6 separate regions of the Homo sapiens genome follow, and regions 1, 2, 3, 4 and 6 are each linked to region 5. Evidence: fine-mapped expression QTL. A gene starts in region 5. Each other region holds a variant in brackets. All regions are shown on one strand. Distances are between the middles of the regions.

Region 1 (4,084 bases), 32 kb before region 5:
GTCTGCGGGGTGGAGATTCGGGCGTCTGCGGGGTGGGGATTCGGGCGTCTGTGGGGATTCGGGTGTCGACTGTGGGGTGGGGATTCGGGCGTCTGTGGGGCAGGGATTGGGGTGTTGGGGGTTGAGGATGGGGTGCCAGTGTCTTTGGATCCCCCCAGAATGGGCGCGGTGGCTCACACCTGTAATCCCAGCACTTTGGGAAGCCGCGGCTGGAGGATCACATGAGCCCAAGAGTTTTAGACCAGCATGGGCAACATGGTGAAAAAAATCTCTACAAAAAATAGTAAAATTAGCCAGGCCTGGTGGTGCTCGCCTGGGCAACAGAGCTAGACACTATTTAAGAAAAAAAAAACGGTGAAACCCCGTCTCTACTAAAAATACAAAAAATTAGCTGGGCGTGGTGGCGGGCGCCTGTAGTCCCAGCTACTCGGGAGGCTGAGGCAGGAGAATGGCGTGAACCCGGGAGCGGAGCTTGCAGTGAGCCCAGATCGCGCCACCGCACTCCAGCCTGGGCAACAGAGCCAGACTCCGTCTCAAAAAAAAAAAAAAAAAAAAGAAGCAGCAGCCGGATCCCTCCTTCTTACCTGACCCAATAACTTTATTTATTTATTTATTTATTTATTTATTTATTTATTTATTTATTTTTTGAGACAGTATCACTCTGTCTCCCAGGCTGGAGTGCAGTGGCCCAATCTCGATCTCGGCTCACCACAATCTCCACCTCCCGGGTTCAAGCGATTCTCCTGCCTCAGCCTCCCGAGTAGCTGGGACTACAGGTGTCTGCCACCACTCCTGGCTAATTTTTGTATTTTGTATTTTTTTTTTGTTTTGTTTCTCCATATTGGCCAGGCTGGTCTCGATCTCATGACCTTGTGATCCACCCACCTTGGCCTCCCAAAGTGCTGAGATTACAGGCGTGAGCCACCGCGCCCGGCCCCCAATAACTTTAAAACAAGGATAATAAATAACACGTTTTATCCTTCGTTTTCCTTGGGTTTGAGAACAAAGTCAACCCACTCTCTCTGAAGGAGTCTGATTTTCAGTCTTTACAACTGCCCAGAAAAGTCGAGATTATCATAGGAAACCAGCTCTGCACGGGTTAAAACAGCCTGCTGGGAAGTGGCCAGACAGGTCCCTGGGAGCAGCGCCCAGAAGGTGGGGAACCTGTGGGGTCTGGCTCTGGTTTGCTGCTGTCCCAGCTCTGGAGTGGTGCCCCGCTTGGCAGGGTGGCCCCACAGGACAGGGAGCAGCATGGGGCCCCTCGGGAGGACCCCGGGCCCTCCTGCATTTGGGGCAAATGATGGAGACACGGGGCACACCTCGCGTGAGAATGCGCCCTGTGCGGGCTGCCCTGGCCCTGCCGCGCACCCCAGCACCCTCTCCGCAGCCCGGGTTCCGCGCGTCTCCAGCCCCCGTCTCGGGCCCCTTTCGTGTGTCTTTCCACCTTTGTCCTCTCTGGGTGGCATCAATATCAAGAATCAATCCTCCCAACCGCTTCCGGCTGCTGCGTCCGGGCAAAGCTCGTGACAAAGTCCTGGCTT[C/T]GCGGGCAGGACCCAGAGCTCCTTGATAGTGGCGGCTGTGGCCACGTGAGCAGGCACAGGTGCAGTTAACAGGCTTGGGAAGCTGCCCTCACCGTCTACCTGCACAAAAGAATTCCCGGAGAGCACAGCCTCACTGGAGATCCTCTCCTGAGGGATAAAGGTCAGCGAGACCTGAAGTTGCTCCCCTGCAGGGCATTTGCAAACTCCTCAAAGCCTTTCAGAGGCTCCACCTGCACCCCAACCCTAACCCCACCCCAAAGTGAGGGGGCCTCATGCCTTTGCCTCAGTGGTTCACATTAATTTCATCTCCGTGGTAGTCACTCCCCTCCCAACATGGCCACTTTCCCCACCCCCACAATGGTCACTCTCCCCCCACATGGTCACTCCCCACCCACCCCCCACAGCCACTCTCCCCACCTTGGTCACTCCCCACCCCCCCACAGTCACTCTCCCCTCTCCGTGGTCACTCTCCACCCCACCCCCCAGTCACTCTCCCCCCGTGGTCACTCCCCACCCCCCCACAGTCACTCTCCCCTCTGTGGTCACTCTCCACCCCCCACAGTCACTCTCCCCCTTCCATGGTCACTCCCCACCCCCCCACAGTCACTCTCACCTCCGTGGTCACTCCCCACCCCACCCCCCCAGTCACTCTCCCCCCGTGGTCACTCCCCACCCCCCCACAGTCACTCTCCCCTCTGTGGTCACTCTCCACCCCCCAACAGTCACTCTCCCCCTTCCATGGTCACTCCCCACCCTCCTACAGTCACTCTTCACCCCGCGGTCACTCCCCACCCCCCAACAGTCACTCTCCCCCTTCCATGGTCACTCCCCACCCCCCTACAGTCACTCTCCCCTCTCCGTGGTCACTCCCCACCCTCCTACAGTCACTCTTCACCCCGTGGTCACTCCCCACCCCCCCACAGTCACTCTCCCCCCCCCATGGTCACTCTCCCCCACCCCCCTCGATGGTCACCCCCCAGCACACATCCAGATGCTCCTCCCACAGCAGCCTCCCTCCCTTAAGAGCCTCTGAAGCTAAAAATGGAGGAGGATGCTGTTTCTCATTTGTCCAGGTCTCCAGCCACCCGGGATTCCATCCCCTCATTCTGTTAAAGGGGTCACTGCGTCCACGCTGTTCTGAGGCCTTTTCCCATTTGCACAGGGAAAGCAGGGGAGGGGTGGCAGCTGCTGGCCCCTGCTTCTCAGCACTGGGCTCTGTGTGGCGCCCACGTGGCCACTGTGCCCTGCAGGCGTCTGCTGCTCTTCCAGGCACAGGCGTCCGGGTCTGGGAGCCACTTTGCTAGCCGAGGTGTGAGCCCCCGCTGTATGCCACTCAACCAGCCGCACCCCTGCCCTCCCCTTCTGAGCCTCTGGCCCGGCCCCCATGAAGGGGCCATGTCGGTGGCCGGCCAGGAGCTGGGCACGAACACCCCTTCCCCTTCAGCCCCCACGTTTAGAGACAGTGGCCTCACAGCGCTGAGGGGTGCAGGTCCCGGTGCCCATGGCCCCAGAGGGAGGCACTGCCCAGCAGCTGAGGGTTTGTCTGCTGTCCCCACCCCGAGCCCTCTGGGCTCACCCGGGGGTGACAGGAGGAGGCAGCGGGGCCGTGAGCCCGGGGAGCCTGAGATCTGGCCGCTTGCTGTGTGGTCTGAAGGTCCCGGCACCCTCCCTGGCTGCCGCCGCCGGACACACTGGAGGAGGCTGTGGAGTTCTCTCCCGAGGGCCAAATCCAACGGCCCCTGCAGCGGCTCAAGGTTCAGCCAGTCCTGGACCCTGCATGTCCACCGCCCTGGGCCCTGGCTGCAGCCCCGGGGGGCTATTTCCTCACTTTACAGAGGGGAGCCTGAAGCAAGGAGGGCAGGTCACACCTCCTGGGTGGGTCACGGGACGCGGGGGCTGCAAGAACACGGGGAGACGTGTGCCCCTTGGGTTCCCGGGGGTTCCGGAGCTGGCGGCAGCCCCACAGCGATGCCTTCCGGCACCTTCCCTCCCCAGGCGCCTCATATAGGACGCTGTCTCCTTGCTGGAAGCTTCTGCAGAAGCTTGTTCCCTTCCCTTGTTTAGTTGTTGATAAACCAAAGGCAAAAACACGGGGAATGCTAAACTTCCGTGATTGATGAAGACGGTTTCATAATTTCTACTTTGAAGTGAATGATTTTATAAGGGCAAGAGAGAAGAGAGGGTGAAGTGTGAGGAAGGTGGGGGTGGGTGGGACCCTGAGAATCCAGGCACCGGGTGAAGATGGGAACCCCCCAAGAGCTCTGGGGGCCCAGTCTTCTGTCCAGAGGCCCCAGCCTCGCGCAGACGATTCGCCGATTCAGGAGAAACCACAGCCGTGGATGAGATTTCCAGCAGACACGCCTTCCTTGCCCATTTCATGGAACAAGAAGAAAGTTCTTTATTGGTAACTCACACACATTATACAGATGGAAAGATTCTCCATTTGTTTTTGATTTTCAGCAGTCTGACTGTGCCGTGCCCACAGGCAGGATTTTCCCTGTACTTGCATTGCTTGGAGCTTGCAAAATTTCTCAAATCTATAA
Region 2 (4,084 bases), 35 kb after region 5:
ATAAGCCATAAAGAATAAAATAGAAAAGTTGCTATATTAAAATCTTAAACTCTTGTGGGATATAATTTTTAAATCCTTAAGTGAAAAGCCAAGCCACAGACTGAGGGAAAACATTGTCAGCATCTGTAACTGACAAGAAAATTGCTATCCAGAATAAAAACAGAACTCCTGCAAATTGATCTAAAAGGGCAAACAAGTGCAGCAAGAAACGGGTAAAGGACAAGAGCCACTGGCTCCGGGGAATAAGCTGCTTCCCTCGGCCTTCAGGGAGACCTTGTCCCCACACCCTCCCCACGGGGCCCTGCTGAAGCCTCTGAGCCATGACTAGGGTGTCCGTTGACCTGACCAGACCATGAGCCATGACCCAGGCCCTGCTCTATTGTCAGCCAGACCTCACTGCGGCCATGCAGCCTCCCCCACTCGCTATTCAGCTCCAGCCGTCCATACGTCCTGCATAAAACTGCCCCCAAAGACCTGGGCCACCCCCAGCCCCAGCTCTGTGCACCTGCAAAGCACCGGTCCCCTCCATGCCCCGCAGAGTTTACGGGGTTCTCATGGTCACGTTCAGCTGCCTGCACCCCTTCCCCCTGCACACGCACACACCGCACATCACACATGTTCAGACGCCAGCTCTGGGACAGCACTGATGTCTGCATCGTTTTCTCCTGAATGCGTCCCCAGCACTGGTGCAGGGCCTGATACTCAACAAGGACTAAAAATATGCCGAATGAATAAACAAAATGCACATAAAACAGCTGCCGTTTCATCCCTTCAGAAGCCCAAGACTGAAAAAGTCTGTCCACACAGGTGCCAGTGTGGGGTGAGGATGGGAGCCCAGGAGGTGTGGCTGGTAGAAGGGAGGCCAAGTGGGTGCAGCCCCTCTGGAGGACGCTGGGCAGCGCCTGGTGAGATGAAATTGTGTGCGTCCAGCTGGGCGTGGTGGCTCACATCTGTAATTCCAGCATTTTGGGAGGCCGAGGTAGGCTGATCATGTGAGGCCAGGAGTTTTAGACCAGCCAGGCCAACAAGGTGAAACCCAGTCTCTACTAAAAATACAAAAATTAGCTGGGCGTGGTGGTGGATGCCTGTAGTCCCAGCTACTCTGGAGGCTGAGGTGGGAGAATCACTTAAACCTGAGAAGTGGAGGCTGCAGTGAGCCGAGACTGCACCACTGCACTCCAGCCTAGGCAGCAGAGTGAGACTCCATCTCAGGAAAAAAAAAGAAAAGAAAAGAAAAAAGAATTGTATGCGTTCCAACTCCACACAGGCACACTCAGCAGAAGCCAGACTGGGGGTGAGGAGTGAAAATGCGGGAACTCCATCTGCCTGAGGCCACAGAGGAGAGGGCATGGGGGGCAGGGTGGGTCAAGTTGTGGGGCCACAGATGGGAGGGCTGGCCTGGTCCTGGGGGAGGACACGGGAGTCTTACACGAGTGACCAGGACGGGTTTGCTGATGGGCTGCAGGGTGCGAAGGAGGCCTGGCAGGGGCTGCGCAGGCTCTAAAGATGCCTGAAAGGAAACAAAAGCGCAGCTCCCTGGGCCTTGGACTGCCGTTTGTGCTTAAGGAGACCCCAGCACTTTTTTCGATGGCATTGAGGGGTCTGGCCGTAATCTGCCTGGGCCCTTCCCCCTTCCCATGGGCTTGTCGTGCAGGCCCTGTGCCAGGCAGGGTGGACCCCGCATGGCCCCGGACCCACAGTGCCCTCAGCTCTACCCTCCTCACTTCTTACAGGACGGGTCAGGTCTGGGACGTCCTGAGAGCACCCAGGAGGGGCCCTGACCCTCAGTGACAGGGGAGGGGGGCCTAGGCCCTCTCTAGATGCCACTGGTCAGGAGCAGGGAGATGGCAGGC[A/G]TTTTCTCCTCCTTCACGAGGCTTGCGGCTCTAGAGTTTTTATTTTTATTGCTGCCTTATATTTAGTGGTGAAAGGCTGTCTTAGAATGTAGATTAACCAGCACACTCTTTAAAGGAAATAAAGTGACTTTGGAAAATCACGCAGACTTCCGCAAACATTTAAATTTTTGTTAAACATGTACTAGCATGTCATGTATTTTACATCAATATTGCAAATTTAATACAAACCACAGTACAAAAAAATTTGAAAGCTTCCTAAAGGCACTGAGAAAGCAGTAGAGAAAGTTGCATTTATAGTGCATAAGTTTTAAAAATTCAACAAGTTGGTCTAGGTATTGAAAACTTTTTTCTTCCAGTAGAAACTGCAAAAATATAAGTTGTATTGATCTCCTCCCTTCCATCCCATTCCCACCTTATATTTGACTTTAATACTTTTTCAGCTATATAGGGAAAAGCTACATACACAGAAAAACATGAACCTGTAATTAGTGCTAACAATGACATTTTAGAGAGAAGTGATACATCCACACTTTCTATGTTCCATAGTCTTCCCCACTGTTTTCCAAGAGGGTTGTGGCTATAAAATAACCAAAGTGCTGACTTGGGGAGTTTTTGTTGCCGTTGAGGAAGGGATGTCGGACACCTCGCTGATCCCAGGCTCTCAGGGCCGCAGCCTCCTGTAGGGTCCCCACACCACAAAACCGGCAGAGCCAACACCCACGTGCTGAGTGCAGCGTCAACACAGCGTGGCCTGCCTGGCAGCAACCCACCACTCAATCTGGCACCTGTCACCAGGAGGGCCTTGGGCAGGGGCGCATCTAAAGGTCTGGGAGGCTGCAGGGCAGGACGTGGTGAAGAAGCCTCCTGGGCAGGGGCTGCCGTCTGTGCTTAAGGAGGCCCCAGTGCTCCTTTGATGACACTGAAGGGCCTGGCTACAATCGCAAACACGCAGCCACGTCTCTGATTCGATCTTTGGGGCCTGGTGTTTTTCCCAGTGACAGCCGTTGGCTCCAGGACACTCAAGACATGTGATACACAAGACTCTCAGTCACTGAGCTCCCTGCCCTCCTCGGCCCCGAGACTGGAAGAGCAGCTGCCACGTTTGGGACCCAGGCGGCGCCCAGGCTGAAGGGAGCTGCTGAGGGCTAAGCTCCAGGACACAGGACGTGGCTGGCCCTCAGAACAGGGAACTCCAAGAGTGGAACATGCATGTTGATTGAGACTTTTTCAGGGATACAGCAGATCTGATTTTTAATTATTTTTTGTAGAGACACATTCTTCCTGTGTTGCCCAGGCTGGTCTTGAACTCCTGGGCTTAAGCGATCCTCCTACCTTGACCTCCTAAAGTGCTGGGATTATAGGCATGAGCCACTGCGCCTGGCCTGCAGGCCTAATTATTAAGGGTCTTTCCATGATCAGCAAAGGAGCTGGGCACTCGGTTAGAATAGGAAGGAAGTGGGAAGCTTCTGAAATACCATCCTGGTCTTAAATCCATAAATGCCCAGAGGCCAGAAGTGTGCCATGCTCAGCATGAGAAATGAATAAAGAGGGGCTCTGTGCCAGTGTAGGGCCAAAGTGGGAAGTAGGCGCCAGTCCTCAGGTGCCTGGTCTTCACAGGTGCCTGCTCTCCACAGGTGACTGACCCTCAGGTGGCTGGTCACCCCATGGCTGGCCCCTGGGTAGCTCTGTCCCCATCGTGACTTTAGGCATCAGATAAGGGAGAGATGGCAGTGGAAGGCCATGAGCACGTCTCACACCCACGACAGCACAGCATGGAGGTCACCTTTTGAAAGACGCCCCCTGGCTAAGCAGAGAGTGAGTGCCCCCTCGGTAGGGCTTGGGGGTCATAGGGGGCCACGATGGATCTGTGACTCTGGGCTCAGATGGTTGGCTGTTCTCTTCCAGTACTGAGAGGAGATCCTTATCCCTATCCCTGCCACATGGGGGCAAACTGTCCAAGAACCAGGCCACTGAGAGGCGCAGGCACCTGGCATTGGGCAGAAGACCCAGTCCTGCCAACCAAACCTGGGTTTTGACAAAGTGAAGGTGCGTTTAACAAATGGGTCCAGCATTAAACCAGCATCTAAGTAAGCACTGACACCTCAAAGCCACTGACAACAGAGAGGGCGTCCACACAGGAGGCAGAATGCACAGTGCGGCGGGGTGGTGGGTCCCTAGGGGTGGTGGGTCCCTCACCCGCGGGCCAACAACAGAGAGGGCGTCCACACGGG
Region 3 (4,084 bases), 120 kb after region 5:
GGCATAGTTTAAGATCTAACTTTTATAGCTTGACTTGTTTCTAATTATACGTGGAAATGACTTCAGAAAAGTTTTTAGAATTTCCTCTAAAATGTACAGCCTGAAGGGGATCACAAAATTCACAATCCTTGGTAGAAAAATCAGGAAGTTTATTCCTGAAAGCTGCAGCACTCTCGTAAGCCGGTGGCCCCTGAGAGTCACTGCAGCTGCGGCAGAGGTGGGCACCTCCCAGCAGGGCAGCAGGAGGCACGCAGGGTGCCCCTGCACAGGATGGCCATCCAGTGCCATTGCCCCGGCTTGGGGCAGGCAGCAGGATGGGAAGCTCACTCGCTGGCAGTTTAAGAAGAGCCAGGTGTCCAAACTTGCTGGAAACACCAGAATCGAAGACTTTCTGAGGCCGTCAAGCCCTGGCCTGGCTGGACACAGTGGGACCTGTGCGGAGAGGAAATGACCTGGCCTCTCCTCCAACCTCCCAGCGAGAGGGTGAGGCTGTGCGGTGTCGGTGGGAGGAAGCCGATGTGACAGGTCTTCAGCTCGGGACAAAGCCTCCCTGCCGGCTGCCCCAGCCCTTCCTGCGCTGTCCAGACACGGGGACTGCCCTCTGCCATTGGCGCTGCTGAGCCGCACTGCGCCATCCATGAAAGGCGTGTCCCAGAAGGCAAACCTGGGAGCCTGCCCTCAATTCCATGCTGGTGCCCATGCCCAGGTGCATGCAGGGTGGTGCCCACTCCACCACACCAGACCACACCAACTGCACCACATCTTAACCCTCCTGGAAAAGCTGCCATCCTGCACATACGGCAAACCCCAGGTCTCTCAGGTAAACTGAGTCCAACACCACCCAGCAGCCCTGGGCACCAGGAGGCCCAGGCTGGGAACAGAGATAAATATAAAATTAATAGTTTTCAACATAAAATTAGAAAACCTGGAATGTAAAACTAAAACTTGCTGTGACCTCACCACTCAGATAAGCTCTGTTAACATTTTGTGGGATTTGATTTCCATGGAGGCTGCGGCCAGCCGGGACCCGGGGAAGACCCTCAGTGTGGGGCCGGCACTGGCAGGACACGGCGCGTGATGCTGGGCATCACCGTGACTTTCCTTCCCGCAGCCCATGGGCCACGTCCTTCCCTGGGGGTGTCTGAGGGTGCGCAGAGGTCTGCAGGGGCCCAGGCACTGACAGCCTCTTGCACCCTGAGACAGACGCCCCCCGCCCAGGGGAGGCCCCCACCCTGACTCAAACTCAGGAGTGCAGGCACCGGGCACAACTGCCACATGCTGCTGGTCACGGGGTTTTTAATTCTAAAAGTGCTGCAATCAAACCACGTGCAGGCACGTCACCCAACACAGAAGCTGAAAGCAGCTTCTCTCCCACCCTCCCGCAACAGCAAAGGCCCCACGGTCTACACCTGCGAGTTCTCTGGAGCGATCCCAGCTCCCAGGGCAGCAATAACCTGAAATCTAAGGAAACGCCATGCTTCCAAGGACAGACAGGGCACAGGCCTGGGGAGGCCCCACCTGAGATGCAGGAGCCCCAGAAGCCCCTCCCCACGAGAGGGCAGCCCCAGCAGCTGTGTCC[G/A]GGCACGGCCTGGCGTGGGCAGGGGGAGGCGCCCGGCACCCCAGGGCAGCCCCCGGGTCCCACCTAGTCAGCTGCCTCAGCCTCCTGACCATGCCCAGCCCTGCTCATCCACAAAGCCGATCCCTCATTCCCTGGAGCCGGGGTCTGTGGGGAAGCCCCAGTGAGGCCCAGCACGGGGAGGAACAGCCCCAGCCCCTCCCTCAGCAGCTGCGCAGCTTCAGCAAACCCAGGACCCCAGGCGCAAACTGGCCCATCCCAGCAAACTGAGGTGAGGCCCCCACCCTGAGAGTGTCGAGGACAGCTAGGGCCAGACCTGGCCCCAGGGAAAATCCACAGCCCAGCCAGCTCCCATCCAGGGGCCAAGTCTCCAGGTTCTGGGGGCAGCGTGGGGGAAGAAGGGAGTGCACATGGTGCAACCCACCAGACACACTTCACCTGGCCACAAGGCCCCAGATGGACTCAGGGGAGACACAGCCTGACTCAAGTGAACAGGTGGGAGCAGGTGAGAGTCCTACCTTGGAAGAAGCTCTTCACCCGGAGGTAACTGACACTGAGGCGCAGGACAGAAAGCTTGTCCAGCTTGGAGATGATGTCAGGCGGGAACGGCAGCAGGCTGGCCAGGTGGTCCAACTCGGCGTTGAGGCGGTCCCGGTGTCGCTTGGAGGGGTTGGACTTCTCTGCCCCCACGGCGGGCCTCCTGTGGGGAGATGGTCTGGGTCAGGTGGGCTTCTCCACCAGAAGCCACAGGCCCCCTGGGGCGGAAACCGTCCTCTGCAGTGACCTTACTAGGAGCATCTACGCTGCTGCCAGGACAAAAGACGGGAAGAGGACTAAAGCTCACCCATGCCTCAAGACATAGACACTAAAAACCACAGCGCACAACAGCCAAGCACAGCTCAGTATCTGGAGGGGATGTAGAGAGAAGAAGCAAACCAGCCGGAGAACCGCAGCTCAGAGCACGGAGACAGGGCACGGCCCCCAGCTGCGGGACAGGCACATTTCTCCACCTCTCCACTACGGATCCCTGAGGAGGGAGGAGGACGCCTGGCCCCAGGCTGGCGGGGCAGGAGTGAGCATAGAAAATGCCACATTCATTCAGCATCCTTAGGGGACTCCTCGGTGTCTAAACAAAACCTAACACATTCCAGGAAACATGAAAAGGTCCTCCTGGCATCAGCCGGGCCGTGCCCAAGGCCGCTCCGAGCTTGGTTTCTCCTGTACATGCTGGGGCTGAGGGGAGAGTACCCAGGGCAAATGAGACCAGGTGCCTGCCACTCTGGGGCCCCACAAAGGGGCAGTGAGGGCCATCACCCAATTCTCCTAATAAGCCAGAGCAGGCCTGCTCTACCCACAAAAAGGGGCCACCTGTGGGGCTTCCACACCACAGAGCCCAGAGAGGGAGGGAGCTGACCCCTCTCACCCAACCTACCTTAAAATGACAGGAGCTTGGCGTGACCCTCTCACCTCAGAGTGACCATCCCCTACAGCTGACCCATTTAACCTCAGAGTGACCGTCCCCTACGGCTGACCCATTTAACCTCACAGTGACCATCCCCTACAGCTGACCCATTTAACCTCACAGTGACCGTCCCCTACGGCTGACCCATTTAACCTCAGAGTGACCATCCCCTACGGCTGACCCATTTAACCTCACAGTGACCATCCCCTACAGCTGACCCATTTAACCTCACAGTGACCATCCCCTACAGCTGACCCATTTAACCTCACAGTGACCATCCCCTACAGCTGACCCATTTAACCTCACAGTGACCGTCCCCTACAGCTGACCTATTTAACCTCAGAGTGACCATCCCCTACAGCTGACCCATTTAAACTCAGAGTGACCATCCCCTACAGCTGACCTATTTAACCTCAGAGTGACCATCCCCTACAGCTGACCCATTTAACCTCACAGTGACCATCCCCTACAGCTGACCTATTTAACCTCAGAGTGACCATCCCCTACAGCTGACCCATTTAACCTCACAGTGACCATCCCCTACAGCTGACCCATTTAACCTCAGAGTGACCATCCCCTACAGCTGACCCATTTAACCTCACAGTGACCGTCCCCTACAGCTGACCCATTTAACCTCAGAGTGACCATCCCCTACAGCTGACCCATTTAACCTCACAGTGACCGTCCCCTACAGCTGACCTATTTAACCTCAGAGTGACCATCCCCTACGGCTAACCCATTTAACCTCACAGTGACTGTCCCCTACAGCTGACCTATTTAACCATCACTGCACTGAAGCCACTTCAACTGCCATCTCGTTCTAGATATCATTTCCACATGCAATCATGCGAAAGAAAAGATGGCAGCCAGTATGGAGTCCACTGGGAATGCATGGGGAGACTGAGCAGGGGCCAGTTACTGGCAGGACCACAGGAACGAGGCCACCTGACTTTCCACACTAACCCTTCCTGGGACCTTGGCACATACAGGAGTGAGCCTGCTGTTTCCAGGGGTTTGGGTCTCTTTTGTCAAGAAGTTCCTTATTT
Region 4 (4,084 bases), 61 kb after region 5:
CTTTCTCAAACATACCTGTTCTTTTTTCATCATATGCTGTGCTTTCTTTATATTGCTGCTGTTATCTTTTATTGTTTTAAATCTATTTGTTTGCCAGTTTCCTTTGGACGGCTTTGCTCCTTAAGTTCTTCCAGGAAGCACGGTTTGTTTACCTGTCAGCTGGCTCCTGCTCACCATCTATGGCTTCCTTGGGTTTATAACTTGCATTGTGAGCTCATTTGCAGGGCGGGTATTTTTGTGGGAGTGGCTTGTGGAAGTGCAGATAAAGGGCCCCATTTTTGCTTCTTTGGGTTCTCCAGAAATCTATCAGTCTGCAGTACGCCTGATTTCCAGATCCTGGGGGTCCTCGCCGTGCAATGGGAGAAATCTTAATTCTACAACCAGCATCTGATTTTCCATGAGGGACCCCAGCTCCTCCCCAGACAAAAAAAACAGCTCCGTTGCTCCCCTCCTGGCCTTGAGTGGGATTTTTTTATTTTTTATTTTTATTTTTGAGATGGAGTCTCGCTCTGTCACCCAGGCTGGAGTGCAGTGACTCGATCTCACCTCACTGCAACCTACACCTCCCAGGTTCACGCTATTCTCCTGCCTCAGCCTCCCTAGTAGCTGGGACTACGGGTGCACGCCACCACACCCAGCTAATTTTTGTATTTTTAGTAGAGACAGGGTTTCACCATGTTGGCCAGCCTGGTCTCAATCTCCTGACCTCGTGATCCACCCGCCTCGGCCTCCCAAAGTGCTGGGATTACAGGCGTGAGCCACCGCGCCCGGCTGGGTGGGATTTTTTATTGCACCTTTTCCCGGGTGAGTTGCCCTTCCAGGGCTTGGTATCTGACGAGGCCTCAACCCCATTCTCTGCCTGGAAGTCTGGAGTCATCCACCTGGGGCTGGCTGGGCAGCATTCCAAATGAACCACTCGCACGTCAGGAAGGGCATTTCCACAACAAGCTGTGTCCTGAGTGCACCAAGAAGCTGAGGCTTAAGACGTTGCCTGGGAGCGGCTGAATGGGATGGTGCTGGTGGGGCAGGGGACCTAGCGGAGTGCCTGAGCCAGAGGAGACCATGCTGCCGTCCGCACGCCACGGCTGCCTTAGACCAGAACACCCCTAACACTGAGAAGCCTCTTGCCGAGACCCCGAACCCAGGCTGGAAGAAACACTGCCCTAGACAAAGCTGGGGTGTGGAGATCTTTATCTGATAAGAGCTCAGTGATAGGAAAAGCCTGATTTTACACATTATCAAACCTTGACGACAACAAACATTTACAAAGGGAAGACAACATAGCACTTAACAGACTGGAGGGCTATTCTGGTTTCATTTACCTGATGGAAGCCCAGATAGTCCACGATCGTTGCTGATGCATAAAATATCGTCCCTTCTGCACTCACGACCAGAGCAAAGCCATTAAGAGACTAGAAGAAAAAACAAAACAAAAAAAAAAATCGAATTGGCTCACCCAAAATGAAAAAGTGCAAGAATCCTTTGCTTAAATTTTCAACAATTTCCTCCTGTTTTGTAGTCCATATTCATAACCTCTAGAAATGCCCACTTTTTATTTATTACCATTTTGTCACAGGCTCCAAGTTAACAGGCAACATGAGAAGGCAGCCATGGTTTACAAGGCCCCTTTTCTAATAAATATAAAATTATGTGCACCTTGTCTTGACGCGACAGTGAGACTTGGTACCTAAGACGAGGCAGGAGCTCTCTGTTTTCCTCTGCAGACGTTTCTGCCCACGTACCTCCTCCTACACACTGTCTGGGATATCCTTTGGCTTTTCTAAGGATTTTTATTATGAAAAATATTGAAGTCCATTGACCAGCCTGGCTAACATGGTGAAACCCTGTCTCTACTAAAAATACAAAAATTAGCCGGGTGTGGTGGTGTGCGACTGTAGTCCCAGCTACTTGGAAGGCTGAGGCAGGAGAATCGCTTGAACCCAGGAGGTGGAGGTTGCAGCGAGCCGAGGTCGCACCACTGCCCTCCAGCCTATGCAATGGAGTGAGACTCTGTCTCAGAAAAAAAAAAAAAAAAAAAAAGAGAGAGAGAGAAAAATGTTGAACTCATCAAGTGTTTTTCTGTATCTGCTGAAAGAATCACAGTTTTTCTTTAGTGTGTGATTGATAGATTTTCTGATGATGCATCATTCTTGTACTTCATGTGGTAAGCCCCTTT[G/A]ATCATGACTTTTTAATATGCCTTGGAATTGATTAACCTCACTTAACCATCTATGTTTAAACTTGGCCTGTAGTTTCTCTCCATATTTTGCATACAGTATACACAACCATCAAGACACGAGTCACTCCTGCTCCTTTCCTTCCATTTTCTGGAGCTGCTTAAGATGAGGGTGACGTGCTTCTGGAAGGCCTGGTCCGCCTCACCCTGAAGACCCTCTAGTGCGGGCACATTTTGTGGAGATGGTGGATGAAACAGGGCAGATTTTAATACTATGTTGATTTATTTATTGTTCGTGTGTGCAAGTTATTTATTTTTTTTACATTAACTATGGCATCTTAAAATATTTTCTAGAAATTCATTTCATCTTGATGTTAAATTCATTCGTGTATGTTATTCACAATATTTGCATGATTATTAAATCCTAGTCACAGCCGTAATCATCGTGGGATTTTGGAGGGAGCAGATGGAGAAGGCAAGGATGTGGCTGTGTTGTGCTTGATGTGGCGTTTTCCTTTATTTGAGCAGCGAGCCTCGCAGCCCCACCCTGCAGCAGCTTCCCGGGGCCATCACCGGTGAGGATGCGCGAAAGACGGTGGCCTCTGAGTCGCAGGATCTGTCCATGGCAGCAATGGCCACTGACGCTGAGCAAGCACAGGCTACCAGGTGGAATATCTCGCCCAGTCTCACATCCCACACGAGGTAGAAGCTGGGGGTGAGGGGGCTGAGTCACCTGGACACAGCTTTCATAAATGTTTCCATTTGTGTCTTTAAAACACAGACATTCGGAGACTTTAACTCCCATGATGTTTGTGGCTGTCAGCAGTATACTATATACTAATTTCCCTTAAATCTGGACCATGCTGGGTACTTTTATTTTCCTTTTTTCTTTTTTTGAAATCTTTGCCAATTTGAAAACAGATATATTATTTCTGAAAAGAGATAAATTATTTTACCATTATAGTTTTCATTTCTTTGATTACTAATGACATTGAAAAACATTTCCTGCATTCACTGGTAACTTGTATTTCTTCTTTGGAAAACTGCCCTATGTATGTCATGTGCTAATTTTTCTATTAGGGTTTATAAGTATCAATTTCTAAGAGCTTTTGAAATACTGGTATTGAAGACTCCTAGGCAGCCAAGGATAATGGCAGTTACCTAAATCCAAATCCCCCACAACATTCCACAAAATGACGGAGAATGGTAAGAACAGGTGCAGCTACACAGACCCAAAATTGCATCATAATGAGGACACAGGAAGTGTAATAAACCTCCAATTACACACAAGCAGAAGGGTCAGCATCAAATGCCAGTGAGCTTAAAATGACTGTTTCAAAAGTATGTATGTAGTCCCTCCTCAAGAAACTGGAGAGAGAAGAGTCAGTTAAATCTAAGGTAAGTAAAAGGAAAGAAAAAATAAAGGTAAGAGTCAAAAATCCATGAAAATGGTTTAGAACAGTCAAATAATAAAGGCCATTAACAGAGTCAAAATTTGAATTTTTGAAAATTTTGAAAAGATTAATAAAACGGATAATCTGCTAGCAAGACTCATCAAGAAAAAAAAAACAAATCACTGACACCAGGAGTTTAAAAGTACATCACTACAGGTCCTACAAATATTAAAAGGATAATAAGAAAATACTAAAAGTGATAGTCAATACATTAAACAATTTAAGTGAAACAGGAAAATTCCTTGAAATATGCAAATTAACAAAAGTGATATAAGAAGAACTAGAAAATCTAAATAACCTTATACTAAATAAATTGAATTTCTAATCAAAACTTTCCTACAAAGAAAACTCCAGGCTCCAATCAAAAAACATAAAATACCTAGGAATAAATCTAATAAAAGATGTGCACGACTGGTATATTGAAAACAAAGCAACATCACTGAGAAAATACCTGAAT
Region 5 (4,073 bases):
GTGGCTAAGGGAGGGGTGGCTCCTGCCGCCCCAGGAGGGAGCTCGGTCATTGGACCAGGGGCACTGGGACCTGGGGGGGTGGGGTCTCCTGTGGGTTCTCAAGGGCCCTGCTTGGCACCCACTGAGTGCCCCCTCAACCAACTCGGAGGCTGCTGTCCGGGGAGACGTGGGCCGGGCAGGGAGCAGGTGGGGTATGTCTTGAGGGAAGCGAGACGTTACCTGTGCTGCCTGTGGCGTGTGGGGTCATGGATGTGGGGGAAGGGCCCGCAACCTGAAAGGCACGTGACCCTAACCTTCCCGGTGACCCTAACTTTCCAAGGCACCCAGCAGGTGACGGCCCCGGCGAGGTCTCCCCTGCCGCCGTGGGGCTCTCCGAAGGCTGACTAGCCGCTGCCCTCTCTCCTAGGAATTGACAACCCTGTGTTTTCTCCGGACGAGGCCCTGGACCGCAGCCTCCTGGCCAGGCTGCCGCCCTGGCTGTCTCCCGGGGAGACGGTGGTCCCCTCGCAGAGGGCCCGCACGCAGATTCCCTACTCTCCCGGCACCTTCTGCCGCCTGATGCCCTTCCGCCTCAGCAGCAAGTCCGTGGACTCCTTCCTGCAGGCAGACGGCCCCGAGGAGCGGCCCCCCGCCGCCCTCCCCGAGTCCACACACATGTAACGCTCCCGGGCCTCCCGCCGCCTAACCCCTCTCCGCAGCTCCTCTCCCTCCAGGTCTCCGCCTCGCGCGCGCTGTCTCTCTCCCTCCCCGCCTAACCCCTCTCCGCAGCTCCTCTCCCTCCAGGTCTCCGCCTCGCGCGCGCTGTCTCTCTCCTCCCTGGACCTGAACCTGGCTCGCTCTCTCTCTCCCCGCCTAACCCCTCTCCGCAGCTCCTCTCCCTCCAGGTCTCCGCCTCGCGCGCGCTGTCTCTCTCCTCCCTGGACCTGAACCTGGCTCTCTCCCTCCCCGCCTAACCCCTCTCCGCAGCTCCTCTCCCTCCAGGTCTCCGCCTCGCGCGCGCTGTCTCTCTCCTCCCTGGACCTGAACCTGGCTCGCTCTCTCTCTCTCCCCGCCTAACCCCTCTCCGCAGCTCCTCTCCTCCAGGTCTCCGCCTCGCGCGCGCTGTCTCTCTCCTCCCTGGACCTGAACCTGGTTCTCTCTCTCCCTCCCCGCCTAACCCCTCTCCGCAGCTCCTCTCCCTCCAGGTCTCCGCCTCGCGCGCGCTGTCTCTCTCCTCCCTGGACCTGAACCTGGCTCGCTCTCTCTCTCTCCCCGCCTAACCCCTCTCCGCAGCTCCTCTCCTCCAGGTCTCCGCCTCGCGCGCGCTGTCTCTCTCCTCCCTGGACCGGAACCTGGTTCTCTCTCTCCCTCCCCGCCTAACCCCTCTCCGCAGCTCCTCTCCCTCCAGGTCTCCGCCTCGCGCGCTCGCTCTCTCTCCTCCCTGGACCTGAACCTGGCGCGCTCTCTCTCTCCAGCAGCCCCTCTTCCTCCTCTAGCGCCCTGCTGGCCGCACCTCCCTCAGGAGCCCGGACAGAGATACTCTGGCGTCTCTGCTGCTCCCACGGAGCTGAGGGCACTAGGGCCGCCTGAGATTTCCTTTAGGTGGCTCCGAAAGCTAGTCCGCGAGTCCAAATCCTGCGCTCCCAGGGAGCTGAGAGCAGGGCTGGGGGAAGCCAGACAGACGCCCCGGGTCCCCGACCCTCTCACAGGGATACAGGGAGGGCCGGCCCCGCAGACCCGGACTCTGCCTCCAGCTCAGAGCAGGGAGAGGGGCGGGCCGTGGGGTCTGGGCTTTCTGAGCTCCCTCTGGGGGCCTGGGAGGCACCCGGGGGACGCCAGGGCGGTTTGAGATGGAGGAAGCAGGTCCCCTTGGGGACCTTGACCTCCCGCGCTGCAGGGCCTGGGGCGGGACCTTCCTGCGCCGAGGAGGCCGCTGTCCCGGGACCCCCGGCGGGGGGACGTGGCGGGGCCGGGCTGGGGCTTCGCTGTTGCTGCTTCCGCCTCTGCCCCGCGAACCCGGGTCCTGGGAGGAGGCCCCAGCGGACGCCGAGCCTGGGGTGCGCCGCGGGAGGGGAGGCGAGAGCCGCCGGGCTCGGGGACAGCTGAGGCCCCCGGGGACGCCCCTCCCGCCCCAGCGCCCGGGCTCCGCGCGCCGCTCACGCCTTCCTCTCCCGCAGGTGACACCGGCTCCGACACGCCGCTAACCGGCCGCTCGTCCCCGCGCCACGGTCCGCCCACCGCCGCCGCCGCTGTCCCAGAGAAACCCCAGATCCCCGCGCGGCTACAGCGACCGCGAGCCCCGAGCCCCGCCTCGCCCACGCCAGCGCCTGCGCAGAACTCCGAGAGTGCCGCGCCTGCGCCCGCAGAGCCGCCCGAGGGCGAGCCGGGGGCGGGGCCTGCGCCGGGGGCGGGGCCGGAGCGCCGAGGGCTGCCGAGTGCGCACGCGCGTTCGGCGGCGGCGCGCCGCGTGCACAGCCGGCGCTCGTTCCAGCGGCCTCGCGCGCGCCGCCGCCCCGCGCTGCTGAAGCTGGCGTCGCTGCCGCCCTCGTGCCACGCACCGCCGCACGCGCTGGAGCAGGAGGAGACGCCGCTGTGACGCCGCCGGCGGGAAGGGTCCGCGCGCCATGGCTGGCCGCTCGCGCCCTTTCCCACCGCTGCCGGGAAACCGAGGCTCGCCCCAAACGGATTTGCGTGAAACCAGCCCAAGGTTCCGGGCCCCCCCAACCGAGCCCCGCGCCCGGGGACTGACTCGGGGACCGACTCAGGGACCTCCCGAGCGCCAGGACTCAGGGCCCGACCTGCAGCGGCTGCAGGCCCAGCGCCCGCAAGCGGCCTGGGCCGAGCGCCGTTTCCAGGCCCTCGCCAGGTCTTTGAACTGCAGGTAAAGTGGCAGGAACGTCTTCCGTCTGCTCAGCGTTTGGGGATTTAGACTCCTAAAGCCAGTACCTGCCCCGTTTCCCCCCCAGGTTCCGTCCTGCCCGCGCCCGGTCTCAGGGTGGCGGCCCCGGACACGGCCCGTCCCCACAGACGAGGTCTCCGGCCTGAGCTGTCGCACCTGGCGCGGAGGTCGCCCGGGGTGCCCTGGCTGGGTGAGAGGTGGCCTGGCGGGCGGAGCTTGCCAAGAATCACGGCCAGTCCTTAAGTGGATGGTGGGGCCCAGCAGCTGCTCTGTCCCCCTTAACAAACCAGGGGGCATGGAGGGGCCCAGGGCACCGCCCCCCTACCAGGCTCAGGCCCTCCAAGGAGAACCTGCTGAGACCCCTGAGCCTGTCCTAGACCCCGGACCCCTGACCCTTCCCACCCCTTCCAGCGTCCCAGGGCGAGGCCTTGGACAGAGCTCCTGGTCCTCTGCAGGGAGACCATCCAGCCCAAGCTCTGGGAGGCACAGTCCATTGAGTGGGCGGAGGCCGCGGGTGCTGAGCCGGGGAGGGTGCTCGGAGTCCATCCATCCCTCAGACGGCAAGTCCCACAGGGTCCAACCCACCTGAAACCTGCCTGCACGGTGGAAGTGGTGGAGGTGGACACTCCTAGGGGCTTTTCTAAAGCTAGACTCGCAGCTCCTTGCTCAGGAAAATTAAACTATTCACGTTTCAGATCAAGTGTTGACAGTCACCAGTCAGGAGGAGTTCTTAAAGAGTTTTATGTTGACTGAATATTGCACATTGAGTCCCCATTGAGTCCCTGGTGGGAAAAGTCCACAATTTCCCATTGATAGCTTTTTACTGTTGTGAAAAAGGGAAGCGTCAGCCACACAAAAGCCTGCATGACCGCTGCTTCGGAGAAGCTCTCGACCCTAACTGCAGTCACTGTTACTTGGATCAGATCAAGCGCAGTGACTTTTTGGGATTCAGTGGTTATTCTCCACACTTCGTAGCCATTTCAACCAACTCTGAGCACAAAATGCAGCCATCCTCTATGCAGCAAGCCCTGCCCAGTCAGTGACCCTACTGGACAGATCCAAGGCCAGCCCTGGTTCCCTGCTGCAGCCACCGTCCTGACGTTCATCGGAGCAGGCCGGGGCCTGGCCTTCCCGGCACAAGTGGCTGTTCTGACAGGCCCCCAGTTTGTCCCATCTGAACTGCTGGGAGGTTTCC
Region 6 (4,084 bases), 45 kb before region 5:
GATGTCGGAAACCGGGGAGGGGCTGGGGCCGGGAGTGGATTCTAGGCCCAGCTGGGTCTATTTGTCCCCAGGCGTCTGGCCGTGGGTACCCCTTGGGTCGTGGACGCACAGGAGGTGTGGGAGCTGACATCCCATGGGGCCTGAACTCCAGAGCTGGGCAGCGCTGGCTCAGGGAGGTGGCGCCTTGAGGGTTAGGACCTGAGCAGCGGCAGTGACTGCCCACGGGGAAACCAGGACAGTGGGGCTGGGTGGGGGCGGTGGGGGCAGGCTCTCGAAGTGGAGCTTGTGTTGCTGAGGGATGTGATGGCGGAGGCCCAGGCCGCCCCACATCTTGGTGAACCCTGGCTGGAAGGGCAGGCAGGAGCGAGACGGGTATCTGGAGTCTGCAGTGCCTCGCGCAGCCGTAGGAGGGTCAGGAGGACGCTAGGGCACAGGGTCAGGAGTGCAGCCCCCTGCTCTGAGCGGCGCAGCCCCCCCACCCCCCTCTGAGCGGCGTTACCCCCACTGTGGGAGTGTGGGAATGCTTTTCTGCAGGAGCTTCAGCCTTGGGGTTCCAGCACCTCCTCCTTAACTGGACAGGGTCAAGACCCAGATCCCTGAGCGCCAGGTTCCCTGCTCCCGGCCCCAAATCTGAGGCACTGGGTGCTTCCTTGTTGTCTGGGTGGGTGCAGGAGGTCGTCCTCACCCGACACTTGACTCCCGGACCCCCGCTGTCTTACCCAGCGTGTCCCAGGGAGCCTCCGCCACTGGGGGTGTGACACTGCCTAGACCACCTGCCTAAGCTGTGGATTTCTCCCAGGTGCAGCCTTCCACCGGGCACTCAGTGCCCAGGCTGTGAGGGCAGCTGTGGGTCACCTTCACCTCCTGGGGTGAATGGTTTTATTGCATGTGCTCTGGTCCTGGAGGCAGGAATCCCTCAATGCGCACAGCACCTACCCCTTCACCATATCTGCTACCCACTCCAGCTGAACTGCCCTTAGGTTCTCCTTGAAGAAGCATAGGAAAGGAGGTTCTGGGGACAAGGATGGCCTAGAAGGCCAGGGTGGTCAGCAAAGTCCCCAGGGGACCCAGTCCTCCCAGGAGAGGACCAGTGAGTGGGCCCTGTGGACCCCAGTCCTGGCAGGAGAGGTATGCTCAGTGGGTTTGGAGTCAGGAGCCATCACGGGAGGCCTGGAAGCAAAGACTCTCCCAGGAGTCTCCACAGGGGAGGGTCTGGCCCTGAAGGGGTGAAGTTTCATTTTCCAGGAGCTGCCCACGGAGAATCAGCTGTAGGCTATAAAACAATCCATGGCGTTTGGAGCTAAGGTGTCGCCCGGGAGAATCCTGAGGAAAGGGGCAAAGGTTGGGAAGTGCTGATAGCATCGGGGCAGGGAAGGAACCACCAGGGCTCCCTGTGGGTACCTGGCAGCTCCGCCAGAGGCTGAGAGAGAGACAGGGATGGTGAGTCACTCTTGGCCGCCAGCCCCCCCAGCCCACTCCCTGCCACCCCAGGAGCTCCCCGCCTCTGGGCGTGTGTGGCGCTCCCTGTGACCACACAGGCTTGTTAAGATGCCTGTCTGGGCCCAAGCTCCAGCACCCAACCAGCCTCATGTCTACTGCAGAAATGGCTGAGCTCTCCCAGCGTGGCCACCCCCACTGCCGGCTTCTCCAGGAGCCAGGGGCTGCACTGGGGCATGTTTAGAGTTGGGGTTCCCATCCTGCACATCATCTGCCCAGCGTCTGGGCTGAGTCCCACAACCAGGAGTCTCAGTGCACGATGAAGCCACCAAGGCTTTCCTCACCCACCCTTGAGACAAGAGTCTCAGGATACCAGGTGTCAGGGTGCCAGGTGTTGGCGTGCCAGGTTTCTGGGTACCAGGTGTTGGGGTACCAGGTCTCAGGGTGCCAGGTCTCAGGATGCCAGATCTCCAAGTGCCAGGCCTCAGGGTGCCCGGTCGCGAAGTGCCATATCTCAGGGTGCTAGATCTCAGGGTATCAGGTCTCAGGGTGCCA[G/A]GTCTCAGGGTACCAGGTCCTGGGATGCCAGACTCCACCCTCCCCCAAATCATGCACTCACCCCAGCTTCATCCCTTCACACTCAGCATCTCTCCTGCTCCACCTTTCCTGAGCTCGGAGCCTTCCTCCTCTGAGCTCCTGAGGACACCTCCTCCTCCAAGGTCTTTTGGCTCAACCAGGTTGATGCCACAATGGCAGAGGTTGTCTGTCTTATTCCTCCTGTGTCCCCAGTGCCTGTCCCCAGCAGAGTCCTGCAGATCTGAGCACGTGAATGGACATGTGGATGGATGGATGGATGAGTGAATAGATAGATGGATGGATGCGTGGATTGATGAATGGATGAATGGATGAGTAAATGGATGGAAGGGTGGATGAGCGAATGGATGAATGGAGTGAATGGATGGATGGATGGATGATGGGTGGATGGATGGATAAGTGGATGGATGGATGGATGAGTGAATGGTCAGATGGGTGGATGAGTGGATGGATGGATGGATGGATGGATGGTTTGGATGGATGGATGGTTTCGGTGAATGGACGAGTGGATGGATGGGTGGATGGATGGATGGATGGGTGAATGGATGGATGGGTGGATGGCTGGATGGCTTGGGTGAATGGATGGATGGGTGGATGGATGGATGGATGGATAGATGGATGAATGAATGGATATATGAATGAGTGAATGGATAGATGGATGAGTGGATTGATAGATGGGTGAGTGAGTGGATGGATGGATAGGTGGATGGGTGAATGGATGGATGGGTGAATGGATGGATGAGTGGATTGATGGATGGATGAGTGAATGGATAGCTGGATGGATGAGTGGACTGATGGATGGATGAGTGGATGGATAGATGGCTTGGATGAATGGATGAGTGAATAGTTGGATGGGTGGATTGATGGATGGATGGATGAATGAATGGATATATGGATAAGTGAATGGATGGATGGATGAGTGGATTGATGGATGGGTGGGTGAGTGAACTCATGGATGGATGAGTGAATGAATGGATATATGGATGAGTGGATAGGTGGATGAGTGAATGGATGGATGAATGAGTGAGTGAGTGAATGGACAGATGGATGGATGGCTGATGCGTGAATGGTTGGTGGATGGATGAGTGGATTGATGGATGGATGAGTGAGTGGATGGGTGAATGGATGAGTAAATGGAGGGATGGGCGGAAGGATGGGTAGATATGTGGATGGATGGATGGATGGATGAGTGGATGGATGGATGCACCCACAGGTGGGTGAAGGAGGAATGAACGAATGAGTGGATGGACAAATGGATGGATGAATGCACACATGGGAGAGTGAAGGAGTGGAGGGATAAACATTGGCTTCCCATGTGTAAGCTTCATCCAAAACCATCTGGACACTGGGCCCAGGAAGAGGCTGTCTCAGCTCCTCGGCTGAATTATTTCCTTAAATTACTGCAGAGCCTCCAGTGAGCAGCACACCTACTTCTGGATGACAATGGCTTTAGAGGCGCCGCCTGCCAAGGAGTGGCAGACTTAACCTGCAAAGTGGGATCATTGACAAGCAATTGCAGCATCGGCTCAGAGCACTTTGGCAGATCTGGGCTCAGCATGGTGAGCACCATCTGCCCCACACAGAGCTCTCTCAGGAGTGGGTCATGTGCCCAGAGAGAAACCACGCTCACCTGGCCTAAAACATGCTCCACTGTCAGCTGAAATCTTAGCTATGCCTTAGCTATATGCCTTCTGGAATAAGACAGACAAACCCAGCCCCATCCTGATGTTGCCAGACCTCGGAAGATGCAGACACACCCTGGGCAGGCCCTGACTTGGTGCTGGAACTGCCCAACCTGGCACCCTCCTGGGACACAGAATAGAACTCGGGTCACAGGCAGCCAATACCCTTAGCATACCAACCACTTTTAGGAGCTTGAATGGTCTCATCCGTCTTATCGAGGTAGCCCAAAATGCTGGACTTTGCAGCAGCCAGCGCTCTGGGCAATGGAGGAGCTCTCTCCAGTTTAATATTCATTCAATAAACATTCAGTGCCCATCACGCCCTGTAGGCAGTGGGGATCCCACTTCAAATGAGACCCAAATATCCCATGGGG

Evidence for each region. PIP is the estimated chance that this variant, and not a neighbour inherited with it, causes the effect.
Region 1: its variant is fine-mapped to the expression of SLC9A3-AS1 in whole blood (TOPMed, PIP above 0.99).
Region 2: its variant is fine-mapped to the expression of SLC9A3-AS1 in minor salivary gland (GTEx, PIP above 0.99).
Region 3: its variant is fine-mapped to the expression of SLC9A3-AS1 in whole blood (TOPMed, PIP above 0.99).
Region 4: its variant is fine-mapped to the expression of SLC9A3-AS1 in regulatory T cells (Bossini-Castillo 2019, PIP 0.95).
Region 6: its variant is fine-mapped to the expression of SLC9A3-AS1 in lung (TOPMed, PIP 0.95).

What each region holds. Positions count from the first base shown.
Region 1 is chr5:503,638-507,721 of GRCh38, reverse strand. The region is part of intron 1 of SLC9A3 (solute carrier family 9 member A3); the gene reads left to right. Among named protein-coding and RNA genes, the nearest start is that of SLC9A3, 19 kb to the left of the region's middle. The variant C/T (reference allele first, on the strand shown) is at 1,542.
Region 2 is chr5:436,219-440,302 of GRCh38, reverse strand. AHRR (aryl hydrocarbon receptor repressor) reads right to left here. Exons shown (of 11, transcript NM_001377236.1): 11 at 2,018-4,084. It overlaps PDCD6-AHRR (PDCD6-AHRR readthrough (NMD candidate)), which reads right to left. Exons shown (of 13, transcript NR_165163.2): 13 at 2,018-4,084. Among named protein-coding and RNA genes, the nearest start is that of EXOC3-AS1, 4.9 kb to the left of the region's middle. The variant A/G (reference allele first, on the strand shown) is at 1,854.
Region 3 is chr5:351,922-356,005 of GRCh38, reverse strand. It overlaps AHRR (aryl hydrocarbon receptor repressor), which reads right to left. Exons shown (of 11, transcript NM_001377236.1): 3 at 2,095-2,276. It overlaps PDCD6-AHRR (PDCD6-AHRR readthrough (NMD candidate)), which reads right to left. Exons shown (of 13, transcript NR_165163.2): 5 at 2,095-2,276. Among named protein-coding and RNA genes, the nearest start is that of AHRR, 32 kb to the right of the region's middle. The variant G/A (reference allele first, on the strand shown) is at 1,580.
Region 4 is chr5:410,672-414,755 of GRCh38, reverse strand. It overlaps AHRR (aryl hydrocarbon receptor repressor), which reads right to left. Exons shown (of 11, transcript NM_001377236.1): 5 at 1,323-1,412. PDCD6-AHRR (PDCD6-AHRR readthrough (NMD candidate)) reads right to left here. Exons shown (of 13, transcript NR_165163.2): 7 at 1,323-1,412. Among named protein-coding and RNA genes, the nearest start is that of EXOC3-AS1, 30 kb to the left of the region's middle. RefSeq lists enhancers at 247-416, 686-855, 570-1,169, 917-1,417, 2,675-2,844 and 2 more and a cis regulatory region at 2,759. The variant G/A (reference allele first, on the strand shown) is at 2,177.
Region 5 is chr5:471,466-475,538 of GRCh38, reverse strand. SLC9A3-AS1 (SLC9A3 antisense RNA 1) reads right to left here and starts at 2,303. Exons shown (of 7, transcript NR_125375.1): 1 at 2,140-2,303; 2 at 220-402. SLC9A3 (solute carrier family 9 member A3) reads left to right here. Exons shown (of 17, transcript NM_004174.4): 16 at 407-656; 17 at 2,157-4,073. The coding sequence ends at 2,160. SLC9A3-OT1 (SLC9A3 3' UTR overlapping transcript 1) reads left to right here and starts at 2,574. Exons shown (of 2, transcript NR_024158.1): 1 at 2,574-2,860; 2 at 3,574-4,073. RefSeq lists enhancers at 1-411, 2,339-2,979, 2,980-3,622 and silencers at 1,596-2,415, 2,536-2,605, 2,966-3,095.
Region 6 is chr5:516,228-520,311 of GRCh38, reverse strand. The region is part of intron 1 of SLC9A3 (solute carrier family 9 member A3); the gene reads left to right. Among named protein-coding and RNA genes, the nearest start is that of SLC9A3, 6.2 kb to the left of the region's middle. The variant G/A (reference allele first, on the strand shown) is at 1,993.